Linked DNA regions of Homo sapiens: region 2 is linked to region 1. The links come from fine-mapping of genetic effects on gene expression. A gene starts in region 1. The other region holds a variant in brackets. All regions are shown on one strand. Distances are from middle to middle.

What was found. PIP is the estimated chance that this variant, and not a neighbour inherited with it, causes the effect.
Region 2: its variant is fine-mapped to the expression of TMEM229B in whole blood (INTERVAL, PIP above 0.99).

The regions. Positions count from the first base shown.
Region 1 is chr14:67,483,395-67,495,505 of GRCh38, reverse strand. TMEM229B (transmembrane protein 229B) reads left to right here and starts at 6,785. Exons shown (of 3, transcript NM_001348543.2): 1 at 6,785-6,998; 2 at 8,334-8,506. It also overlaps a transcript of GPHN not described here. RefSeq lists enhancers at 3,024-3,563, 3,564-4,104, 6,654-7,073, 6,711-7,210, 7,374-7,443.
Region 2 is chr14:67,502,150-67,514,260 of GRCh38, reverse strand. It overlaps a transcript of GPHN not described here and a transcript of TMEM229B not described here. Among named protein-coding and RNA genes, the nearest start is that of TMEM229B, 19 kb to the right of the region's middle. The variant G/A (reference allele first, on the strand shown) is at 4,653.

The DNA.
Region 1 (12,111 bases):
CATCTGAAAAAAAAAAAAATCCAGAAGGCTGTGATTTAACAAATGTAACCTGACTCATTATTATGGGCTGTGGACAAAACAGGTGTCAAAATATCTCCAGGAAATATTAACTACATATACGGATACACTCCAAAGTTTAACCCCGTCTTCTGGCATTAGGATGGATGCCTTCTGCAAGGTTGTTGATCCTGGGAGGAGGAGGTGGGAGTAAATCAATGGAGAAGCAAGAAAAAGGAGGGCCAAATTGGAAGAGGAAATGTTTCCAGGAGGGATTTGGCAGGCGGAAACCCCAGAGCTGGAATTTTTGTGCCCAGTGGAGACCTCTGATGACCAGTGTGGTTCTCCCTGGATTTGCCTCCATGTCTGTTCCTGGGCCCCACCCCCTGTCCTAATAAGAGGGTCCCTGATGTTTTTGCCTCCAAACTTTTTATTTAGAAATAATTTCAAATGTACAGAAAAGTTGCCAGAACAGTACAAAACACTCATATACTCTTTACCCAGATTCACCTGTGATTAACATTTTGCCCCATTTGCTTTATTTAATTTTAAATTTTTATGTAGAGACAAAGTCTCACTATGTTGCCCAGACTGGTCTCAAACTCCTAACTTCAAGCAATCTTCCCACCTCAGCCTCTCAAAGCGCTGGGATTACAGGCCTGAATCACTGCATCTGGCCACTTCTGTTTTTAAAATTTGGTGCTTCTTCTGTAGCCTTGGTTCTTGTCAAATGTTGGGCGAGCCTTCGTTCTGTGTTCCTCTGTTGGATCTTGGGGTCTTCAGGTCACCTCTCTGTGAATGCTGATTCTGTGCACCACAGCCAGCCATCACCGGCTGTGGACAGGAGGGTGGGATGTACCTGCTGAGCACTGACAAGAGCTGGTCTAGGCATCCCCTACCTCTCAACCCGTGTCCAGAGTATAAGCATGGTGTGTGGGGGCGGGGCCGATTGGCCTGGCTGCTCCAGATTCAATAACCACCAATTCAGGGCCCTTCCTGTGCCTGGATTTGCTGGCTGAAACCTTGTAGCCCCCACAGCTGCTTCTCTGATAGAGCACAGAACCCACAGGCACACTGCCTGGCTTCAAATCCTAGCCCTGCCCTTACTAGCACTGTGACCTTGAGAAAGCTGCATAACCTCTTTGGGTCTCATTTCTAAATTCTCTTCTCGGCCTTTCTCAGGCTGGTTTGAGGCTGTCCTAATGAATGTAATGGGTCCTCTTATCCTTTGTCAAAAGGAATGTTAATTATTTTCAGCAGTCTAATTACATGGTTAATGAGAGACTGACTGAGATAACATTCCCTTTAATTACTCTTGCCTAAGTGCTGTTTGGCGCCATATTTTAAGCATTAGCAAGACTGGGTGCTTTCTCAGTAGATGGAGCTGTCCAGTAAGGGGCTGAGTGAAGGGCAGGGGTTGTTGGGCTTAAGGCTTATGGTGGAGGTGCCTGGTGTGGCTGGGGTCAGTGTCCAGCTGAGTGCATGGTGGTCTTTCCTGTGGACTGTTACTTAAGGAAAGGAACAGTACCGATTGGTTCAGATGGAGAGCAGACAGCAACTGTCACAGATTCCCCAGAACAACTCTCATCCTTCAATTAAAAAAAAATTATTTTTAAATAAATAAATAAGTTTATTACATGTGTGAGCCACTGCCCCTGGCCTTACCCTGTCAATTTCAGACTGACATCCTTATAGCTCCAAGTCCAAAACAAAAAAGAAAAGGATGCCTCTTTTGTGGTCTCTGTGGCCATTCCAACAAGAATCTCAGGATTGGCTCTGATTGGAGCATGTATCCATCCCTGAACCAATCACAGAACCAGGGGAATGTGGTGCTGTGATTGGCCAGGCTGGGGCCTGATGCTCACCCCAACAGGCAGGGTATTGACAGCATCCAAAGCACACTGACCCTCAGTGTTGGAAATAAAGCTTGGTGTCGCAAAGTGAAACCAGCACTCAGGCAGAAAAAGTTTTCTCAGCAAGGCAATTTACTCCTGCAGAAGGGTGCGGCCTGTGTCAGTTACGATCACGAGAGCACACTGAACAAAGGAGAGCAGGGGTTTTTATCCCTAACACAGACCCTGTTCCTGTGTCCTCCCTGTGTTGGCTGGGGTTGGACCGCACAATCTAAACTAATTCCGATTGGCTACTGTTGACATCATCAAAGGAGGCAAGGGTGGGCACTTGGCGGGAAAGACAAGTACACAGGTGATGGCATATGCTTGGGCGTGTTTGGGTGCAACAGAGATAGGGAGGGCTGATAGATGGATGGGTAAGATTACTTTCAGAATAGAACAAAGAACAAGGAACTGAAACCTTTGAAGATAAACTGTGCCTAACACCAGCTACTCTGGCCTTGCTGTTTCTCAAACTTGTCTAACTTTCTCCTACTTCAGGGTCTCTTCACTAACTGTCCTCTCTGCCTGGAATGCTTTTCCCAAAGTTCTTTGCACGGCTTCTTCTCATCTTTCTAACCTATGCCCAAATGCTACCTCCTTAACATTTAAGACTCACCTTCCAGCATCGGGTTTCTTTATTTCCCCCACCTGGCCTTCCCCATCTTCATGGCATAATATTAAAACTTATAGTATGTTTAGAGCTGCTTAGTTATTGCTGATCTCCCACCTGCCTGTGAGCTCCAAGGGGGCAGGAACATTGTCTTGTTCACACATGGTACAGTACCTGGCCTTCACTGGGTCTCAGTAAATATTTGTTGACTGCTGGAATATAACACCTTGAATAAATAAACCAGCTACCACAGGACTTCTTGGACTAAGTTCCCTTGTTGTTTAGAAATCTCTAGGTGGCTTGGCTGTACAGGCTGTGAAAAGCGGAGTCCTGTTGTCACACCATAAGAGCGGTCCAGGCTTGTCTTCTGAAAGCCCTGCTGGGCTTCTTTCTGCCTCCCTGGTGAGGCAACAAAGGGGCAGGGTCCCCATCACTTCTGAAGGTGCAGCGTGGCAGGGTAACCTCCAGGACACCCTAAGGACATGGGCAGTAGTGGGAAGAACCCAGATAAAATCCTGGTCACTTTGCCAGTGAGGCTGTGAGGCCACTGCCTCTTTTTTCTGACTGACAGGAGAAGGCTTGCTGGTCTCATGTGCAGAGTATTCTAGGGCCTCTCAGCCGCTGCCTGATGGGATCTGCATAGGGGATTATTGATGAAGGCAAGGTGAGGCAGCTCTTTACAGTAACACATGCCTCACTCTGGGACGGCGGCCAGGCAGCTAATTAGAGAGCCCAGCAGCTGTCCAGCCTTTCAGGCAGCAAGCAGCAGCTACTGATTGCCGGGGGTGGGAATGGGAGGAAATAGACGTGGGACCAGAGACCACCCTCCAAGGCGATGGAGTTGGGTGGTCAGGGTTTGCTCAGTGGGGGACTTTGAGAGGGGCATGTGAGATAGAGTGGGCTAGATGGGGAGGAGGAAGGGGGAGAGGAGAGGGAAAGGACAGGTGGCCTCCAAGTGAGACAGAAGACAGTGGGGTGAGATGTCAGGCAGGTGGGGCAATGCAGCTTCCAAGCTCAGAGCAAGGGGCACAGAGGGGAAGGACAGGGCCCCGTGGGGTTGGGGCCTGGCTCCCATCTCCATGCACCTTCCCCATGCCAGGCAGGCCCCCGCGGCCTGGGCCTCTCCTTGCTTCCTGGGGGAGCTGGACAGACACAGGCTTTCCCCTCAGGGAATCTGGAATACTGATTGCTTTTGTAGTTGAGCTTGGCCCCTCCTTGGTGTAGGAAGTTACCAGATCCATTTGTGCTCAGGGCTTTTCTTACTCTAGGATAAGTAAAAGTGGTTGTTCTGAGTCACGTGAGAAGAACTGGGGGCTTTGAGTAACCAGAGGGCTCCCCAGTGGGCCTTTAGGCATCTTCTCTACTTTGTGGGCACCTGGGTCAGGGTGCGGTGTAATAAGAAATGTATTCGGTCTTTGTCCCGGGTCCCTGTCATAGAGCTCCTAAAACCCTTGAAATTTCCTGAGTGAAAGGAATGTCTTTTGTTATTCATAATAAGCACCTTTGATAACACCTGAGTTTATGCTAATGAAGTTACTGGGGAAGTGGTGGGGTGGTGGAGGGGCTAGACAGCCTCAGGATGGAGCCAGTCTCCAGAAAGACCAAATGCTTAGAGGATTAGAACATTTGGCCTCACCCTCCAACCTCCAAGAAAGGTGTGGGAGGGTGGAGATCAAGCTACATAAAAACTCTTGAATAAGATTTGATAGGTTTCTGGGTGGCTGAACATGTGGCGGTGCTGGTGGGTGACCCCCCAATACGTCACCCTATCCATCTCTGCATCTGGTTGCTCATCTGCACCCTTTGTGATAAATCAGTAAAGGTAAGTGTTTCCCCGGGTTCTGTGAGCCATCCTAGCAAATTAATAGAACCCAAGGAGGCGGTCATGGGAACCCTGGTTTGTAACCAATTGTTCAGAAGTATAGGTGACGATCTACTTGTGACTGGCATCTGAAGTGGGGGCAGTCTTGTGGGACTGAGCCCTCAGAATGTGGGATCTGCTGCTATCTCAGGATAGATAGCATCAGAGTTTAAATGAACTGTAGGAGACCCAGTTGGTGTCTGCTGGAGAAATGTGACCAGATATGGGGGGCATATCTGCCCCCCTCCACGCCCACCCCATATCTGGTCACAGAAGTGTTCTGCTTTGAGTGTGAGAGCAGAAGGAAAAAACTTTTTTTCCTTTACAGGGAGATTTGGGGAGTGTTAAGGAAAAGGAGAGTGGGGGTAAAAAAACAGAGGTAGTATTTGCCTGCATGCTTTCTGGCTCCAGTGTTAGGTTCCAGGCCAAGGAGATGATGAGGGGCCGGGGAGAGAGATCTGATTTTTAGGTTCTGGTCAGAGAAGCAGAGACTCAATCCTGCAAGCCCAGCTTACCTTAAATAGTTATAGGAAAGGAGAGAAAATGGTGCGAAGGGAATTTCCTGCCAGTAGCCTCTTTGGGAAGTGAATCCTATGTGCATGAAAACTGATGTGGCTTTTGAGAGTGCCAGCACATTGTAGAAATAACAGAACAGGAGTTGTTATTCTCTGACCTGAACCTGCGCTTGGCCCCTTGCCCACATAGGAGGCTGCAGTATCTCCCCTGATGCCTGGAACAGTCTGTTCCTGCCCCAGTCTTCCTTGCGTGATGTTGGACATGCCTTCTGTATTGTGCAAACCCAGGCCGCCCACTCTGCCTCTCTTCATTCTCTGGTGGTGCAATGGCTCCTGGAGATGGGAGAAAGGAGAGTGAGCACACTCCTTGCTTCCTTCACCTGCAGAGACAGCCTTGCCTTTAGTAAACCAACATGTATGGCTCATCTGTGATGGTGGCCTATAAATTAGAGAAAAACACAAGACATTGCTATGTTTGATTAGTAACATTGGATGTTTCAGTCGCCCAAGAATTTAAATGCAGCTGGGCCCTTCTCCACCTTGCCTGTCCATCCATCCAGCAGAAATTTTATGATCTCAAGAAATTCATAGCGTGGTGGGGGAAACAGACACATAGACAGAATTTTTTTTTTTTTTTTGAGACGGAGTCTCGCTCTGTCGCCCAGGCTGGAGTGCAGTGGCGTGGTCTCAGATCACTGCAAGCTCTGCCTCCCAGGTTCACGCCATTCTCCTGCCTCAGCCTCCCAAGTAGCTGGGACTACAGGTGCCCACCATCACACCTGGCTAATTTTTTGTGCTTTTAGTAGAGATGGGGTTTCACCATGTTAGCCAGGATGGTCTCGATCTCCTGACCTCGTGATCCGCCCGCCTCGGCCTCCCAATGTGCTGGGATTACAGGCGTGAGCCACCGCGCCCGGCTACATAGAAAGAATTTTAAGATGGGATGACATGTTTCAGTTGAAGGATGGTCAGATCCCCCTGGGAACATCAGTGATGGAATGACCTGGAGGTTGTGGGACGGCATCGCAAAGGAGTGAGGAGGGAGCAGGGTCTGGAAGAAGGAGTCAGAATGGTGGCTGCAGAGGAGGGCAGGAGAGATGACAGTGCTTGAAACAGGCCGGTGGTCTCTGCTTCTTCACGCTCCCAGCAGCGTCTCAGGCATATTGACCAGAAGCTGCATGGACAAACTCAGCTATAAGTTTGCAAAATAAGCAGCTTACTTGGAATGGACTAAGTAGTTTACACTGACTTGAAGACCCTTGCATGCAGACATGTGCCTTAAGGATGAGATTTGGGTGGGAAGCAGTTCGAAGGCACATTGTATGGGGACAGGGTGATTCTGGAGGCTGAGGACTGGGATTTGAATCAAATGTTTGGATTTGGCCAAATCTCTTAATGTCCTGAACCCTCTGTGTTTTCATTTCTAAAATAGAGGTGACCATTTCTGCCCTTCCTGCCCCTCAGGAGCCTGAGAAAATCATGAGAGATGATCTAAGTTCCATCCATATGTTAGTTGCTATAAGGGCTCATCATTCATTCATATGTTCCAAGAAACTCTGGTTCAGGTCCTGCAGTCCTCAAAGGAGCCTCATGTCCCCTGTCCCCTGGGATCTACTCTTGGGGGATAGGGAGTGTCAGTGAGGCCTAGGGACAGCTTATGCACTTGGAGGGAGAGGTGCACCATCATCTCATCCTCCCTGCAACTAAGTTTTTCCTGGGGAAAAAGCCTGCAGACCAGGAAGTGGGAGGTGTCTGGTGGGACACTGCCCTCAAAAGGAGCCTTTCTGAGTGCTGGGGCTTCATCTGCCAGGGCTGCACCTCAGCAGGCAGTGGGCTCCCAGAGCTGGCTGCAGTAACCCGCAGGCTGTGCCGGCAGGATGTGGTCTTTGGTTTCTGTTTCTGTTTTAGTTCTGACTTGTGCCGTGGATGTGGCTGAGGGCCTAGGGTGGGGAGAAGTCTCCACAGGTGGGATTGAACTCCCCAGGCACATGGTCCTTGTGGTGCTGGTGGAGAGAGAGTCCCAGAGGGTTCGGACATGCTCCGTTAAAACCTTTTCCTCAAGGTGATAGGTACGTGTCAAGGTGACCCCTGTCCGCCATCCGGCAGGCTGGAAGAAGCCGGTAAGATGGACAGATCAGGGAGGGTTGGAGGGTCCCGTTTGTGAAGGAGCTGGGGAGGGGGAGGCAAGGCTGAGCACAGCAGCCCACTGTGATGCTCTCAGTGCAGAGGCCCCGGGGGGAGACCCAGGGGGGCACCCCCCAAAACCACACCATACAGTGAGTTTCAGTTCCCCCACTCCTGCCCTTTCACTTCTCCTCGGCTGCCTGGCTGCCTCACAGGTTGTCAGCTTGAGCAAGGGCCCAAGCGGCCTCTACTCAGAGACCCTGGTGGTCAGAGGGGAGTGGGGAAGGTGGACATGGGCATCAGCACAGACCAGCACCTCTGGTCCATCCTGCCTGGTCATCCACAGGGGAGTGCCAGCTCCCACCCCCAGCCACATACTGTTCTCAGCTTCTGAGTGGCTGGGCTGTCCCAGAGGGCCATGCTGGGCCTGAGTGCTGTCCTTGGGCATATGCAGATGGTGTTGTATCCAGGGGGTTTTCAGGGAAGCTTTAGCACTTTCATATTAAAACAAAAAATGTTGGAATCTCCATTAAATAGTCAAGTCTTAGGGATAGTAGTAAAAACATGGCTGTACATGGCTGGCCAGGCACAGTGGCTCACGCCTATAATCCTAGCACTTTGGGAGGCTGAGGTGGGAGGGTTGGCCAAGAGCTTGAGACCAGCCTGGTCAACATAGCAAGACCCGTCTCTACTTGATTTTTTTTTTTAAAGTACATGGCAAAGGGCATTATAAAGTAAGATTTGTATTAGCTTGTAGCTGGTTACTGATGTTCATAGGAAGGGCCTCAACCATAATAATGGTGAAATAATAAAATGAGATGAATAAATATTAGAGAGGTAGAATAGTACGTAGAAAGGTTTAGCACACATTTTGTTTTTCTGCACGAGTGGTTGTTCTCTGCTTTCAAAGTGCTGAAACGAATGTCCTACATTGTCTGCCTTCCATGAGGTTCTGACCGCCCTTGAGAACAGATGTACCCACTACAGGGTGAAGGTGAGAATGTAATTTGAAGCTGAATGAGAATGGAGCTGGATTCTAAAATTATATCCCCTCTCAGATTCACAAGTGTTCACACATTTAGGCAAGAAGCCCTAAGTCCTAACCCTGGACATGTGGATTGTCCAGGACCATCCCAGACTTTTGTGGCTGGATTAATCAGACCTGAGCAAACTGGATGCAAAGAGGAGGGGGTAGGTTCCGGGAAGGGGCCCTGGTGGCCAGGGTGGGATGAGTGTCTGGTGCTGAGCCCAGAGCCCAGGCCCTTGCAATGTTTTTCTTGGATCTGCTGGGGGCAGTTTAAGCTAATAAAAGCCTCCTCTTTTATTCCCAGGGACACATGGAAGCTGCCAGCCCCCCAGCCAAGGATCAGCTGAGCCCTAGGGCTGATGCTTGCCTACGTTGCTGAGAATGGCACTGAGGCCCAGCCAACAAAGGTTAACCCAGGACACTCCTGGACAGTGATCCTGATGTCTGTTGTGAGCTGCACACTCAAGGGTGTGATAAGTGAGTATGTTACAAGCACCCAGGGGATCACCAGCCCAGCGATCCTGCCTGCTCGGCACCTCATCAGCATGGGCACGAGTCTGGAGGTTCTAGTTCTGAGTCTGTTCCCCATCCAAGGTCCTGTCACAGGGCAATGGGAGGGGAATGTCAAGCAATATTGGGCCATCACATGCGGGAGCCGTCTTATGGCCACATGGCCTCTAAAATCCAGGCCAGACCCAGTGTATTAGTTTGTTTTCGTGCTGCTGATAAAGACATACGTAAGAGTGGAAAATGTATACAGAAAAAGAGGGTTAATTCCACGTGTCTGGGGAAGCCTCACAATCATGGTGGAAGGCAAGGGGAAGCAAGTCACATATTACAAGGTTGGTAGCAAGCAGAAAGAGAGCTTGTGCAGGGAAACTCTCCCTTATAAAACCATCAGATCAGCCGGGCACTGTGGCTCACGCCTGTAATCCCAGCACTTTGGGAGGCCGAGGTGGGTGGATCGCAAGGTCAACAGATTGAGACCATCCTGGCCAACATGGTGAAACCCCATCTGTACTAAAAATACAAAAATTAGCTGGGCATTGTGGCATGCACCTGTGGTCCCAGCTATTCAGGAGGCTGAGGCAGGAGAATCGCTTGAACCTGGGAGGCAGAGGTTGCAGTGAGCCAAGATCGTGCCATTGCACCCCAGCCTGGCAACAGAGCAAGACTCTGTCTCAAAACAAAACAAAACAAAAACCCATCAGATCTCATGAGATTTATTCACTATCACAAGAACAGCATGAGAAAGACCTGGCCCCATGATTCAATTACCTCCCACCCAGTTCCTCCCACAACATGGTGGAAATTCAAGATGAGATTTGGGTGAGGACACAGCCAAACCATATCATTCAGATTGTCTGGCGTGAGTGAAGCGAGCACTCACACCTGGGAAACAGCATCTACTTTGGCCGTCAGGCTTCAGATCTGTGCAGTGAGGACCATGCATCACCTGGGACTGGACTCTGCCCAGAAGCCATGAGCAATGCATGTGCTGCTGGTCTAGGAGGCCTGGAGTAGGGCATCCAGGGCCCTGGGAGGTGGGGGGATTTGTGAGCCTTAGCTGCCATAAGAGTGACCACCAGGGGATCTGGAGGAGCATGTCCTCTTGCTTTTGTCACATATCAGCAGCAGCATCTCCTCCTCAGCGAGACAAGCTCGAGGTAGGGTGAGAGGCTCCTAACTGCACAGCCCTGCCTGTCCTCACAGGCCTTTCTTTCCAGCCTCAGCCCCTGGCTTTTCCTTGATGATGCCTTAAAAAATGACAATTGGCTGCTTTCCCAACCCCCAGAGGCCTGTCTGGCCTGAAGGCTGTTATGTCTGTGCAGGGCCCGTAGCCTGGTGGGATCAGAGGCCTGCAGGAAGGAAGCTCCCCAGAAGGCATGGCAGGCAGAGCTGGGCTTTTGCAATCTTGAACAGACAAGCTTTTTTTGGAGTTCCTAGGCTGGTCCATGGGAACCCAGAGCTTCAGATTCCATGCAGGAATTTGCAGGGAGTAGAAAAGGGGTAATCAGGTCTTTTTCCACTTTAGGTAGATCTTGACTCTCCTAGTTGACAGTTTATAATTCAGGGCCAGAATCTGTTTTCCACTCAGCCTGGGCTTACAAAGTCAGTTTGACTGGAGAGTTTCTCAGGAAGTGTGTTCTTGAGTTGATTTGTAGCCAGGGTGGTGTGAGCAAGCCTAGACTGTAGGAGGGGAGTTGGGGGTAAAGAGATGGCCATGGGTGCCTCTGTGGGAACGTCGTTCCTCAGATGGGAGGCACATCTCCCCAGAGCAATTTATGCCATCAGCCTTAAGGCTGTTGTACCGTTTGGTTCAGTGATTCTCCTTCTGGAATTATCCATTAAGATATATTATTAGGAAATAGTACCAGAGAAGAAAAGGGCTGAATTCTTCCATTACAGGCATTAAAGGTAATTCTCGTTATATCATCTGTAGTAGTAGAAATGGGAAACAACTGTTCCCTTTGGACATCTAGGTTAAGTAAATTACAGTTTTCCGCTTGCTGGAATATTACACAGCCATTATAATAATGAGCACAGAGGCTATATAACAACTTGGAAAAACAGTTATGACAAGTAAAAATGGCAGGTTGCAGAATAAGTATATTATGGTGACTTGTAAAATACACACATAGGAAAATATTGCAAAGGAGAAATGGTAATCGCTGTTAGTTCAGAATTATGAGTGCTTTTTCTTTTTTTTTCTTTATTAGAAATGAGGTCTCACTATGTTGCCCAGGCTGGTCTCAAACTCCTGGGCTCAAGCAGTCCTCCCGCCTCAGCCTCCCAAAATGCTGGGATTACAGGTGTGAGCCCCCATGCCCGGCCTATGAATGCTTCTTCTATGATGCATGGATTGGCTTTTTAAAAAATAAAATTGAATCCGGATGACTACACAACATACCATTAATAGTGACTTTCTCTAAGATGTGTGATTACAGGGAACTTTTGCTTTCTATGTCATTCTGTAATGTTTAAATTTCAGCTGTGAGCACATGTTGCTTTTATAATTAGAAAAAAAATTAAATGCTAGAATTAAATGTTTTAGAAGGCTATATTTCTCAAGAAAGGAGGGAAGAGAGACCGAGGCAGCTAGCTGTTTATACCTGCCCTCATCAGTGTTTAAGGGCCTGGGCCTGTTTGGGCCCACTCATCCATCCATTCATTCCACAAGTATTACTAGGTATTATTGCCAGGCACCACTCTAGGCACTGACTAAACAGCAGTGAACAAGACAGTGCCCCTGCTCTCATGAAGTTTTCATTCTAGTTGAGGAGAGACAGACCATAAATAAGTAGCAACATATCAGAAAGTGAAAGTGCTATGTAGAAAATAAAATGGAATGATGTGAGTGACAGAGAGGCTATTTTGGACTGGGGATCAAAAGTCCCTGAGATATGACAGCTCAGCTGAGATCTGAATGGTAACAGCAAGGCAGCCACATACAGGTCTGGGATGCCAGCCTGCCAGTCCCCCGTGCAGGGCATCCTTCGCTTTCTGAGCCCCAGGGACCTCTGTGCCAGAACTGACTCCATCCCCCAAGCCCACTCACCCTGCCCTGCCTCCTGCTGCGGTTTGCTTGGGATCTGAGGCCCCCTGAAATCCTCTGTGTTCGGACCGCTCCTCCTGACATGCTGGCTGTTGCTCCTCTGGGCAGCTGGCCCCTGCTCTTGGCTGGTGTCTCCATGGCAGGGCTGGGCCGGGCCATCTGAGACTCCCAGGAGCACTGGTGTGGGCTGGCAGTCAGGGGGCCTCTGGGTTGTGTGTGTCCTGGTGAGGGGCCTTTGAATGGCGCATGCCTTGGGGCCTGAGGGTTGGTTGCTGTCATGGTCCTGTGACTGTCAGCTTTGACCCTGGAGGGCCTCTGTGTGGATCCCGAGGAACAGGCTGGGAGCCTTTAGGAACTCTGACACCCAGTTGGGAAGTTTGTTAATGAACCACCTAGAAGTTCACAACCTTCTCCTTGCTTCCTGTTGTCTCTCCACATACCATCCCAGCCTTCCAGAAGCAGGAACTCAGAAAATGGTAGTGCCCTCAGAGGAGCCTGCAGTCAGCCTCGGGGGCAGTGCAGTGTG
Region 2 (12,111 bases), 19 kb before region 1:
TCTTTTCTTTCCCCAGGGTTTCCCTGGGGGTGTTTGGCTGCCTTAGGTACAGAGCTTGGAGATAGGAGGGCAGAGTGTTCGGGCACTGCTCAAGGCTCTCCCTGGAGGGAAAGAGCAGGACCCCAGGCAGCTTTCTGCTGGTGTAACCTTGGGGGCTCTGCTCACCAATTCTCATGTGTTCTCAGCACCCTAGTAATAAGTGAGCTATTGCTGTGGCTATCAGCCTTGGGTAATTGAGAGGCCTGGGTTTCTCTCTGCTGTACCAGGAAGAGGGATCAAGGGAGGGCCAAGCAACCTGCCTTGGGGGTGGTACAGTGTCTTTCTCTCTAGAAAACAAATGGGCCAGGTTCCAGGTCCCCAGTGCTTGGCCTTATGTCTCCAGGAACAAGGTGCCTTCAGTTCTGAGCTGGCTTACATGTGACCACCAGCTCCTATCCTGTGGCAGGATAGCCCTTTGGGAGCTCAGATTTTTTTCCCTGTTTGGAAGACAGATACATCTGCTTCCCTGTGAGACAGAAGGCACTGGAGGGCCCTAGACTGGTGGAGGACTCTCCCGCCTGCCTGTGTGAATGACCTAATGATACAAGGATACAAGTAGGTTGGGCCAGGGTGGGCCTGTCAGGACACTTTGCTCTAGAGACACTTTGCTCAGGGGTGTGCTGAGATGACACTTAGCCCCCATCAGGGGCTTTGTGTTTGGAGACAGATACAGGCAACTGGGGACACAGCATGGCAGGCGTTGGGTGGGGACAACAGGCTTTTTTAGTGTTGATTTTGGCCACTTATAGGTACAGGAGCAACGGAGGTTCCAGGACCAATAAGGAGTAGCAGGAGAAAACTGAGTCCCCTGAGCTATAGATTTGTGGCCCTGCAATTTGTGGCTAAAGTCAGATGCAGGTACTGCACCAGAGAAGCACAGCTAGGCCCACTTCTATGGACCTTCCCATTCTAACAGGCAGGCAGGATTGATTTCACTCAATTCCCCACTGGAGCGGCTTTATTGGTTTGTCCCAAGCTATTTATTCGGAGCTGAGGATAATGATATGGAGGCCTGACCTCCGAGCCTCCAGTGGTTAGAGGATGGGCTTTTCCGTGGCATGTTCCTCAAATGTACTGACCTTAAGATGGGAAATTGATACTCTCCTAACTTCCTGTTTTGAAGTGATGAGGCATGAATTTTTACATTTATAAAGTGATTTAAGACCCTCAAGTCCTTGAATGAAAGATATTAAATGAGTTAGTGAGCCTTATACTGTGTTTATTTCGGTTGTATCAGATTTACATATTGTTTCTAAAGGGAAAGGTGTCATTTTACAGGAAGGGACCAAATTACAGCTTTTGTGATAGGCAAAGCTCAGTGTTGGTTTTAAAAGTGTAGTTTTTATCAGAAAAGCTCTCGCTGCAGCACTTAGGCAGCAAGCTTTTTTTTCTGCTTACCTCCCAGGATGGCTTGGAGCTCCTTCCTGGTGGGCTTTTTCCTGGTGTACAGTTTCCAGCTAGAATGTTAGTGACTGTCACCTTCCAGTTTCTGAGGAGGGTCTCCGATGATGTTGGGGACTCTGATGTCATAAGGAAAGACCTGGGTAAGGGCAGTAGAGTGAGGCAGCTTGGTCTTATCGGCAACTGTATCAGATCTGGCTGTCCTTGAGGGGAGGGAAGGGATAGCTAACCCTCCCAGAGCCTGGCTGTTTTCAAGTTTGTATGCTTTTACTTTTCTCCTCCCCCATCTCCCTACCTCCCATATACAGACAAGGTGGTCTGGGTGTATTTTTGAATTGCAGGAACATTCCTTTTAAGGCAAGGATAATTTCTGACCTGGCAAAGCCTTAGCTCCCTTTGTGGCAACACCTGGCTAAGGAGGGAATATCAGACAGGATTCTCATGTTCTGAGCTGAGGAATTTCAGCCTCTATTGGCCAGATCTTCTTCTTACTCTACATCACTTCTCAGAAATCAGGCTTTGTATTTGAAAAGTAAAGTGTAAGCTGATTTCTAGGGAAGGGGTAGGAGGGGGGCACTTTTGGTTTGGTTCCCCTTAGGGAAACTGAGTCCCACTGAGAGTTGTCACACTGGCTGTGGTGTGTGAGAATGCATGTGTTGGGGAAATTTTCCTTTCCTGGGATTTAAGAGCATTTAAAATCAAGTACCCGAGTAGATCCATAGGTTATACTTTTCTGCTATAAGATAAAGATGCACTCAGAATTTACGTACCAGAATTTACATCAGTACCAGGGTGTTTGGTTCAAGACGTATATTTGCCTCAGACTTTGAGCTGTGGGATGCCCCATGCTGCTGTGATTCAAGGAAAAGGCAGTGGTTTTCACCCCGACACACACATCCACAGATAGAACTGAGGCTAAGTCAACCATCACATTTCCAAGATGGAAAAGAGGGTTTGCTCCTTTCCCTGTTTTCCCATTCATCAGGCTGCATTTATACCCAGTGTGGCCTTCGGCTCTCCTCCCCTGTGAGGCTATACTTCATGCTCATTTTAACATCAGTTCCCCTATGTATAAATGTAGTGGAGCGGAGGTCACAGAGTGATGCTGGCCCCCTGCTCCTTCAAAGGATGGTTCTGAAAGGCGACTTTCCACCCTCCTCTGATTTTGGTGCTTCCACTTACCTTTGGATCACAATCCAGTCTGGCAATTTGAGGAACAACCAAAGTCATTGACAATTCATGTTTTTGAACATCCAGCTTTTCACCATCCTTTACTCTGCTGGCTTCCCAGTAGGGAGTTTAATATTTTTTTCGGGATTCTCGGCTCCCAGTGTGGCTGGTATTATAGAAGAGACAGCATCTTTGAAATGAGGGCAAACCATCTACACGGACAGGTCTCGGGTCCTCAGATTGCTCCTTCCGGCTGCTCCATCTTCTAGAAGCATGACAGTTTTTTTTGTTTTTTTGTTTTTTTAAATAAGACTTCAGCTGTCAATTAATGTAGGGAGAGCTAATAAATATGAAAAGATGAGGGGAGAGATCACTTTCTGCCATTCCTTTGCTTTCCAAAAGCCCCTCATTCAGAACATACTGGATTATCCACTTCTGACTGCTTTTGCAGTTAGACTTGAATGACGAATGCCATCTAGCTGGCCCATTCATTCATTGTTTCCTTTCAGTTATTAAGAGGCACCCCTGTCACATGAGCTTCTGGAATGATCCGTTTCCATTGGAAAGGTCACTCACCCTGAGTTTTAGTAAGGCCTTGACATCAGCCCTGAGGAGCTAGGGATGCCAGCCAAGGAGATTGAAGGGCCACAAAGAGAGGATTCTTTTCTAGACTTCTGAGGGGTGATTCATGCTTCAAGATAAAATGTGCTTCCTGGGGCTCCATGGTTTCATTGCTTGCACAGTCAGTGGAGGGACAGGCCCTGGTGCAGCGAGAAGCCCACCTTGCTGACAATAACTGCCATTCTTCAGAGCACCGACAGGGACTTGTTTTTAGCCCACTGACAACCCCCATCTCCTTTTTCATTGCTGTCCTTGGCCAAACCCCATTTTAGTCCCTAAGTCCTTAGTATCTCTCTTCCCCTTGTTCCCAATCAAAAAGGCCTGTTCAAAGCCAGGAATAAGGCAGCCAGAGCATTGGTCTTACTTTCATCTACTTTCTTAAAACACACATGGACAAGAAATATCATTACCACTGGGCAACACAAGCAGCGGTTCCAGATTTTTGTCTTGTTTTCTTTTTCTTTTTCTTTTAGTTTGGCATAAGCAATGAGATGACCTTCTTATACTGACCTATAGATGCTATAAAGCTTTCATATAGCCTGCACAGTTTCTAACACATGGTGAGTGCTTATTAAATCACCAGCTGTGGTACTTGGATGTGATCAGATACCCCGATTTCTAGGTCATTGGGCAATGATTCGTCTGTGTGTGAGCTGATGGTTGGCAAAGGCTTCAGGAATCAGGAAATCTGGGATCCCTCCCTGACTCACTCACTTGTGTGACCTTGGACAGCCCATTTCAGCCCTCTGAGACTTAATTCCACAAATAGAGCTTCAGCTGGCTTCAGTGATCATGGCAATAATAATGACAATCACCATTTATTAGGCTAAGCATTTACATATGTTCTTTTCTCATATCAATGAGATAGCTACTATTAATTATCCCCATCTCACAGCTGGAAACACTGAGGCTCTGCAAGATAAAGTGATCACCCATATCATACAGCTAGTAAGTGTCTAAACTGGGATTTGAATTGAGATCTATCTGATTCTTTTTTTTTTTAATAAAAAAATTTTTTTAGAGACGGGTTCTCTCTCTGTTGCTCAGGCTTTAGTGCAGTGGCACAATCATAGCTCACTGCAGCCTTGAACTCCTGGGTTCAAGTGATCCTCCTGCCTCAGCCTCCCTAGGACTACAGGCATGTGCCACCATACCTAGCTACTTTTAAAATTGTTTATATGGAGACAGAGTCTTTATAACTCGCTATGTTGCACAGGCTGGTCTCAAACTCCTGGCCTCAAGCAATCCTCCTGCCTCAGCCTCCCAAAGTGCTGGGATTACAGGGATAAGCCACATCTCCCAGCCAGTCTGAATCTATTGTGTTTTATAAGCTTGGATCAGATAATAGACCAAATGTTGGGGAGAGGGTAAAAGTGGAGGCAGTATAGGTTAACACATAAAAAGGAGAATTGACCAGGTGC[G/A]GTGGCTCATGCCTGTAATCCCAGCACTTTAGGAGGCCGAGGTGGGTGGATCACCTGAGGTCAGGAGTTCAAGACCAGCCTGAGCAACATGGTGAAACCCCATCTCTACTAAAAACACAAAAATTAGCTGTGCATGGCGGCTCGTGCCTGTAGTCCCAGCTACTTGGGAGGCTGAGGCAGGAGAATCGCTTGAACCTGGGAGGTGGAGGTTGCAGTGAGCAGAGATCATGCCATTGCACTCCAGCTTGGACAACAAGAGTGAAACTCCGTCTCAAAAAAAAAAAGAGAGAGTTGATGTGGATTAAACACAACTAGTTAAAAGGAGACAGAAGTACAGATTCTTGTTTGAAAAACATCATCTCAATGAATGTTCAGTAAGGAGAGGTCTGTACCCTGCAGTAGGGAAGTAGACCAGATGGCCTGGGAGTTACTGTAAAGGGAACACGCTTTCTGCTTGGCATAGGAATACATCTCATAAACCCCATTTCATTTTGAAACCAAAATTTTCCTCTTGCTTAACGGTCTGTTTGGGCAACATTTTTATTTCTGTTGTCCTACTGCCACTAGTCATAGAAGCTTATCTTTGCAGATTCTTGACCCCAATCCTCATCCTCCAACCTAGTTTCTGGGCCTTTCCCTGCCCATCATTATAATTCAGCTGTGGAGACCTGATTATGACTCTGGGGTCCCAGCTACACTGAGCAAAGTACAGCAAACATGAGATTATTCTGTTCTTCTGAGAAAATATTTATAGCCACTGATTTCTCCATTCAAAGGTGACCAGCTAGTAGATTGGGATCCATTCTTGTTTGTTCCAAGCAAGTTAATTGTCTTCTGTTTTTTTTTTTTTTTTTTGAGACAAGGTTTTGCTCTGTCACCCAGGCTGGAGTGCAGTGGCACAATCCCAGCTCAATGAAGCCTCTATCCCTCTATCTCCTGGGCTCAAGGGATCCTCTAGCCTCAGCCTTCCAAGTAGCTGGGACTACAGGTGCAGAACTACACCTGGCCTCTTCCACCATTTTGAAGTATTCATGGAAGAGGAATGAGGGTTAAGGTGGTGGTCCAAGGAAGGTGAGCTGACCCCTCTTGGAGAGCTAGCGTGAGGCTGTATGATGGAACAGTGTGCAAGGGGTCAGGAGACTTGGGTTCTCCTCACAGCTCAGTGACTCTGGGCGTGTGATGCAAGTTTTTTGGCTTTTAGTTTTCTTATCATTTGGACAAGATATTCTCTAACCTCTCTTCAGGTAATAATGCTAGATGATCCAGCCTTTCCTGAGAAAGGCTGAGGTTCCAGCCTTTTTCAGGAAATAACTCAGCTGGTCTGGAACTGTCAGAAGTCAGAGTTGGGAGGGAAGAGATGGTGTTGAAGGAGAAAGAAGTCAAACTGGAAGCTAAGGAACAAAGTCAGAGCTGGAGGAAGTCCCTTCTCAAGAAGGGGGACTAGGACCAGTCATTGCTCTTTTTTTTTTTTTTGAGATGGAGTTTAGCTCTTGCTGCCCAGGCTGGAGTGCAATGTGACTTCGGCTCACAGCAAACTCCACCTCCCGGGTTCAAGCAATTCTCCTGCCTCAGCCTCCCGAGTAGCTGGGATTAGAGGCATGCGCCCCCACGTCCGGCTAATTTTGTATTTTTAGTAGAGACAGGGTTTCTCCATGTTGGTCAGGCTGGTCTGGAACTCCCAACCTCAGGTGAACTGCCGGCCTCAGCCTCCCAAAGTGCTGGGACTACAGGCGTGAGCCAACATGCCCAGCCCAGTCATTGCTCTTTTAACCGCTTCAGTGGGGCAGCTGAGAGGTGGTGTCTGTACACCCTTATACTCACCATTCCTATGTCATGGGGAGCAACCTTTATGTCTTGTCTTAAAACTTAAACTGAGCCAGGCAGGGTGGCTCACACCTGTAATCCTAGCACTTTGGGAGATGGAAACAGGAGAATCACTTGCCAGTTCAAGACTAGCCTAGGCAACACAGTGAGACCTTGTCTTTACACAAAATTAGTTGGACATGGTGGCGCATGTCTGTACTCCCAGTTCCTTGGGAGGCTGAGGTGGGAGGATCACTTAAGCCTGGGAGGTCGAGGCTGCAATGAGCTGTGACCACACCACTGCACTCCAGCTTGGACAAAAGACCGAGACCCTGGGGACTCCAGGGTCTGCTTCAGTCCAGGATTCTTCCCCCTATCCCTGCTCCTCTGCCACTTGGGTCTCCAGAACTTGAGGTCTCTGGTTGATGTTTTTTTGTTTTTGTTTTTGTTTATTTTAGAGACAGGATGTTGTTCTGTCACCCAGGCTGGAGTGCAGTGGCATAATCATAGCTCACTGTAGCCTTGAACTCCTGGGTTCAAGCAATCCTCCCACTTCAGCCTCCCAAGTAGCTAGGACTGTAGTTGCACCACCTATATTAGCACCTGGCTAATTTAGCTGGTGCTTTCTGGGCAACTCAGTGTTAGCGAGAGTATAACCCCCTCTGTTGCCCTAACTACCTGAAAGGGCAAGGCTAAACCATATACTCAGCCCAGGAACTCAGGGACCACGTCTTCTTTGTTCATGGAATTGGGCTATGGCTAGGCTATCTTCAGTTCCCTTTGAACAAGGCTTTTTCTTTTTCTTTCTTTCCTTTTTTGTTTTTAGATGGAATCTGGCCCTGTCGCCAGGCTGGAATGCAGTGGCACGATCTCAGCTCACTGCAACCTTTGCCTCCTGTGTTCAAGCCATTCTCCTGCCTCAGCCTCCTGAGTAGCTGGGACTACAGGTGCATGCCACCACCCCCAGCTAAGTTTTGTATTTTTAGTAGAGATGGAGTTTCACCACGTTGGCCAGGATGGTCTCGATCTCTTTACTTCATGATCTGCCTGCCTTGGCCTCCCAAAGTGTTGGGATTACAGGCATGAGCCACCACTCCTGGCCCAAACAAAGCCATTTTCTAAGGACCCTTGGATTCTTTCATTCCTTCTATTTTCATTTCATCATATTCAAGGTTGAGGAGCAAATGAGTTCCCACTGAACCCACCAAACCAATATTTTCCATCCCTACCTGTCTTACATTTTCCTCACCTCTTATTCCCCTATCCCCATTATTTTTATGGGGGGTACCATGCTACTGGGGGGATGAGAGATGATTTCATTTGGTACAAGGACAAACATTTCATTTTAATAGCTATGTTTCTAATGAGTGTAAAGAAACATGACTCATTGGAATGTACTCATCAAGCAACTTAATTTTGCCTCCCACTGTCTCTTTATGTTTATCCAGTGGGATTAGTTCTTTCCCTGGTCTAGGGTGAAAACTTAGGCCCTGTAACTTTTCTGGTTATTCATAGGAGACGGTTCTGTGATCACTTTAAGTCTTACAAGCATAGTCTCAACTAGGTACAAAATACACCCGCTTTATGAAGCAGAGTCCCATGGAAAAAACTAAAAAATAAAATAAAATAAAAATACATCCACTCCTTTGTCACTGGACTGGGAGGGGCAGGAAAGTGCTCACTGGGTACACTCTGCTGGCTTCCAGCTTCCTGGTCCATATTTTTATCGGATTCTCAGAGAACTCTCCTTACCCTCCCAATTGCTGGGATGTCTCACTTCTATTGTCTTGAAAAGAACAAATTATCAGCCAGGTGAGGTGGCTCACACCTGTAATCCCAACACTTTGGGAGGCTGAGATGGACGGATACCCAAGGTCAGGAGTTCGAGACCAGCCTGGCCAACATGGTGGAAACCCTGTCGCTACTAAAAATACAAAAATTAGATAGGCATGGTGGCGGGCGCCTGTAATCCCAGGGAGGCTGATGCAGGAGAATTGCTTGAACCCTGGAGGCAGAGGTTGCAGTGAGCTGAGATCGCACCACTGCATACCAGCCTGGGCAACAGAGCAAGAATCTGTTTAAAAAAAAAAAAAAAGAGCAAATTATCCTCTATTCTAGATCATTGCTCCTTCCTCAGCCCCTGAAATCCAGTGGTTCACCTCTAGCCTCTTTCAGCTAAGGTCCTTCAGTCTGCCCAAGAGACCATCTCAGAGAAGACCTGCTCTGACCTCATGCCAGCCCACATTAGTGCATGTGGCCCACATTAGTTCAAGGAAACAATCACACATCCCTGGGCACAGTGAACCTGGGAAGGCAGGCTGACCCCAGCTCAGCAGTCTCCCTTGGCTCCTCCAACAGCAGATGGCCAACGTGTGTCCCACCCTTTGGATGTCTCAAGAGGTGATCAGATGCCAGTCCACCATGTCCTCCCAGTTGCAGGGGACAGACATCAAGTTTCCTGAGTGGTCCTGGTGAATTCCCCTCTCACCAGCTTGACAGGAGGGCCAGTTTTCTATGGGGACAGGGTGAGATATCACAGCACACTAACAGCAACCCCAAAATTCCTCCACAAAGATTTTTCCCCAGTCTCTGCCCATTCTGACCCTCTATACCCTCAGCTTGAGAGAGGGGCCCTTGCGCACCTCTTTTGAAAATGCGCATCCTTCTTTGGTGTCACACTTACGAGCATTATACCTGTTGCATCTTGGTGCACCTTGGTGTTCATCTGGAAAGTGATGCAGCTACTCATTTGAGTCAATTTGCTGATTAATTCCTATAGCTGCTTTGACTGGATGTTTTAAAACTTTAAAAAATATCCAAACGCACTTGGGAAATCATAAAAGCAACACAGCAATGCACAATAAAGGAATCTAAAGTGTTCTATTGTGTTTTTGTTTTTGTTTTTGTTTTGTTTTGTTTGAGACGGAGTGTCGCTCTTGTTGCCCTGATTGGAGTGCAATGGTGAGATCTCAGCTCACCTGCAACCTCTGCCTCTCAAGTTCAAGAGATTCTCCTGCCTCAGACTCCCGAGTAGCTGGGATTATGGGCACCCGCCACCACGCCCAGATAATTTTTGTATTTTTAGTAGAGACAGGGTTTCACCAAGTTGGCCAGGCTGGTCTTGAACTCCTGACCTCGTGATCCACCCACCTCGGCCTCCCAAAGTGCTGGGATTACAGGTGTGAGCCACCGCACATGGCCTATTGTTTTTTATTTATTTTTTTGATTTAACATCTTGTTATATGTGTATCATCAAAACCATCATTGTCACAATAAGCCCATGATTTTGTGGATATTATTGCTTAGAACAAGGCTACAGTACATATATAACTGAAAAAAAAACTGACTTAAATGAAAAGGTTAGTGACAACAACTGACATTTATTGGTAGCTTATAATGCCAGGTTGCTGTTTGTAGTACAGTAAACATGCTTTCTCACTTAATCCTCATGAGGAACGTACTTATATTTTCTCTATTTTACAAACAAACTGAGCCTGGGCACGGTGGCTCACGCCTGCAACCCCAGCACTTTGGGAGGCTGAGGTAAGCGCATCACTTGAGGTCAGAAGTCCGAGACCAACCTGGCCAACACAGTGAAACCTCATCTCTACTAAAAATACAAAAATTATCTGGGCATGGTGGTGGGCGCCTGTAATCCCAGCTACTCAGGAGGTTGAGGCAGGAGAATCGCTTGAACCCAGGAGGCAGAGGCTGCAGTGAGCCGAGATCGCACGACTGCACTCCAGCCTGGGTGACAGAGCGAGATCCTGTCTCAAAAATAATAAAAATAAAAATTAAAAAATAGGCTGGGCACAGTGGCTCACGCCTGTAATCCCAGCACTTTGGGAAGCTGAGGCAGGCAGATCACGAGGTCAGGAGTTCAAGACCAGCCTGGCCAACATGGTGAAACCCTGTCTCTACTAAAAATACAAAAATTAACCAGGCATGGTGGTGAGCACCTGTAATCCCAGCTACTCGGGAGGCTGAGGCAGGAGAATTGCTTGAACCCAGGAGGTGGAGGTTGCAGTGAGCTGAGATCGCACGACTGTACTCCAGCCTGGGTGACAGAGCTAGACTCTGTCTCAAAAATAAATAAATAAAAAATAAAAATAATTTAAAAAAAGTAAGCTGAGGCAGAGAGGTGAAGCAGCATGTCCAAGTCACATAATTGGTGTCAAAGCTGGGATTTGAATGGAAAGAATCTGACTCCAGAGTGTGGACTTTTAAACTGCTACCCTCTGTCATTTCCCGCAGGGCAGTGGGCAGCCATGCCGAGTCATGAAGGTGGCATGCAGGGATGGGAAATGCTGCCTTAGGAGGTAATTGACGTCCTTTGCCCTGTCATTCAAGCTCTCCATAGCCTTTACACGCTTTTCCAAACGTATCTCCCCAGCGCCCCCAGGAAATCCTTCTATGCCCTTTCCTAGAGCCTAATCCACTTGCACAACTAATCTGGCATACACACGCCCACCCCTGCTTCAGTTGTTCCACTGCCTGAAGGGCACTCACCTGCCTTGCTGCCTACCCAAACTGTAGTCCTTTTAGAAGCCAGAGACCATCTCTGCTGCAAGTTTGTTTAACCAAAACCACTTCTGTTAGGATCTTTTAACTCCTCTTGTCATTTTGTCACCAGGTCACAATTATTATGTGCTTTTATGCAAAGGACAGTGAACAACAGTTGGCAAACACAGATCCTGATCTCTCCGTGCAGCGCCACTATCTGCTTGTTAGCGTGCGGTTATCTGCTTGTCTGCTAACTTACGCAAGGCTCTCAACTTCCCTGAACATTGGTTTCATCTTTAAAGTGTGTGTCCGGATGATATCCCTTCAGTTTTTAATATTCCATGGTTGTTTTGCTTACCATATTGTCTCCACTAATTTTTAAGCTCCCAAAGGCTGGAACTTTGTTTTGTAAATCTTAATACATTTCAGGACCCTGTACAAGGTTTTACACACAGAAAGTATTTAATAAAGTTGGTTGGTTGGCTGCTGGGAAATAAGCCCTGTGGTCACTCTGCTTTGGCCTTGACTGACCTTTAGAAATCACCTTCTGGGGCCCGGCGCGGTGGCTCACGCCTATAATCCCAGCACTTTGGGAGGCCATGGTGGGTGGATCACCTGAGGTCGGGAGTTTGAGACCAGCCTGACCAACATGGAGGAATGCCGTCTCTACTAAAAGTACAAAATTAGCCAGGCGTGGTGGCACATGGCTGTAATCCCAGCTACTCAGGAGGCTAAGGCAGGAGAATTGCTTGAATCTCGGAGGCGGAGGTTGCAGTGAGCTGAGATCATGCCATTGCACTCTAGCCTGGACAACAAAGCAAAACTCAGTCTCAAAAAAAAAAAAAAGAAATCACCTTCTGGGTGATCACCAGCAAGGACTTTGCAGTTCTTTTTTCAGCACAAGTTTATAACAAAAGTTTGGGTCCTATCTGTTGCATTTTTTTCTTTTTTTTTCTTTCTTTTCTTTTTTTTGAGATGGAGTCTCACTCTGTTGCCCAGGCTGGAGTACAATGGCACGATCTCGGCTCACTGCAACCTCCACCTCCCAGGTTCAAGTGATTCTCCTGCCTCAGCCTCCCGAGTAGCTGGGACTACAGGCGCATGCCACCATACCCAGCTAATTTTTGTATTTTTAGTAGACAGGGTTTCTCCA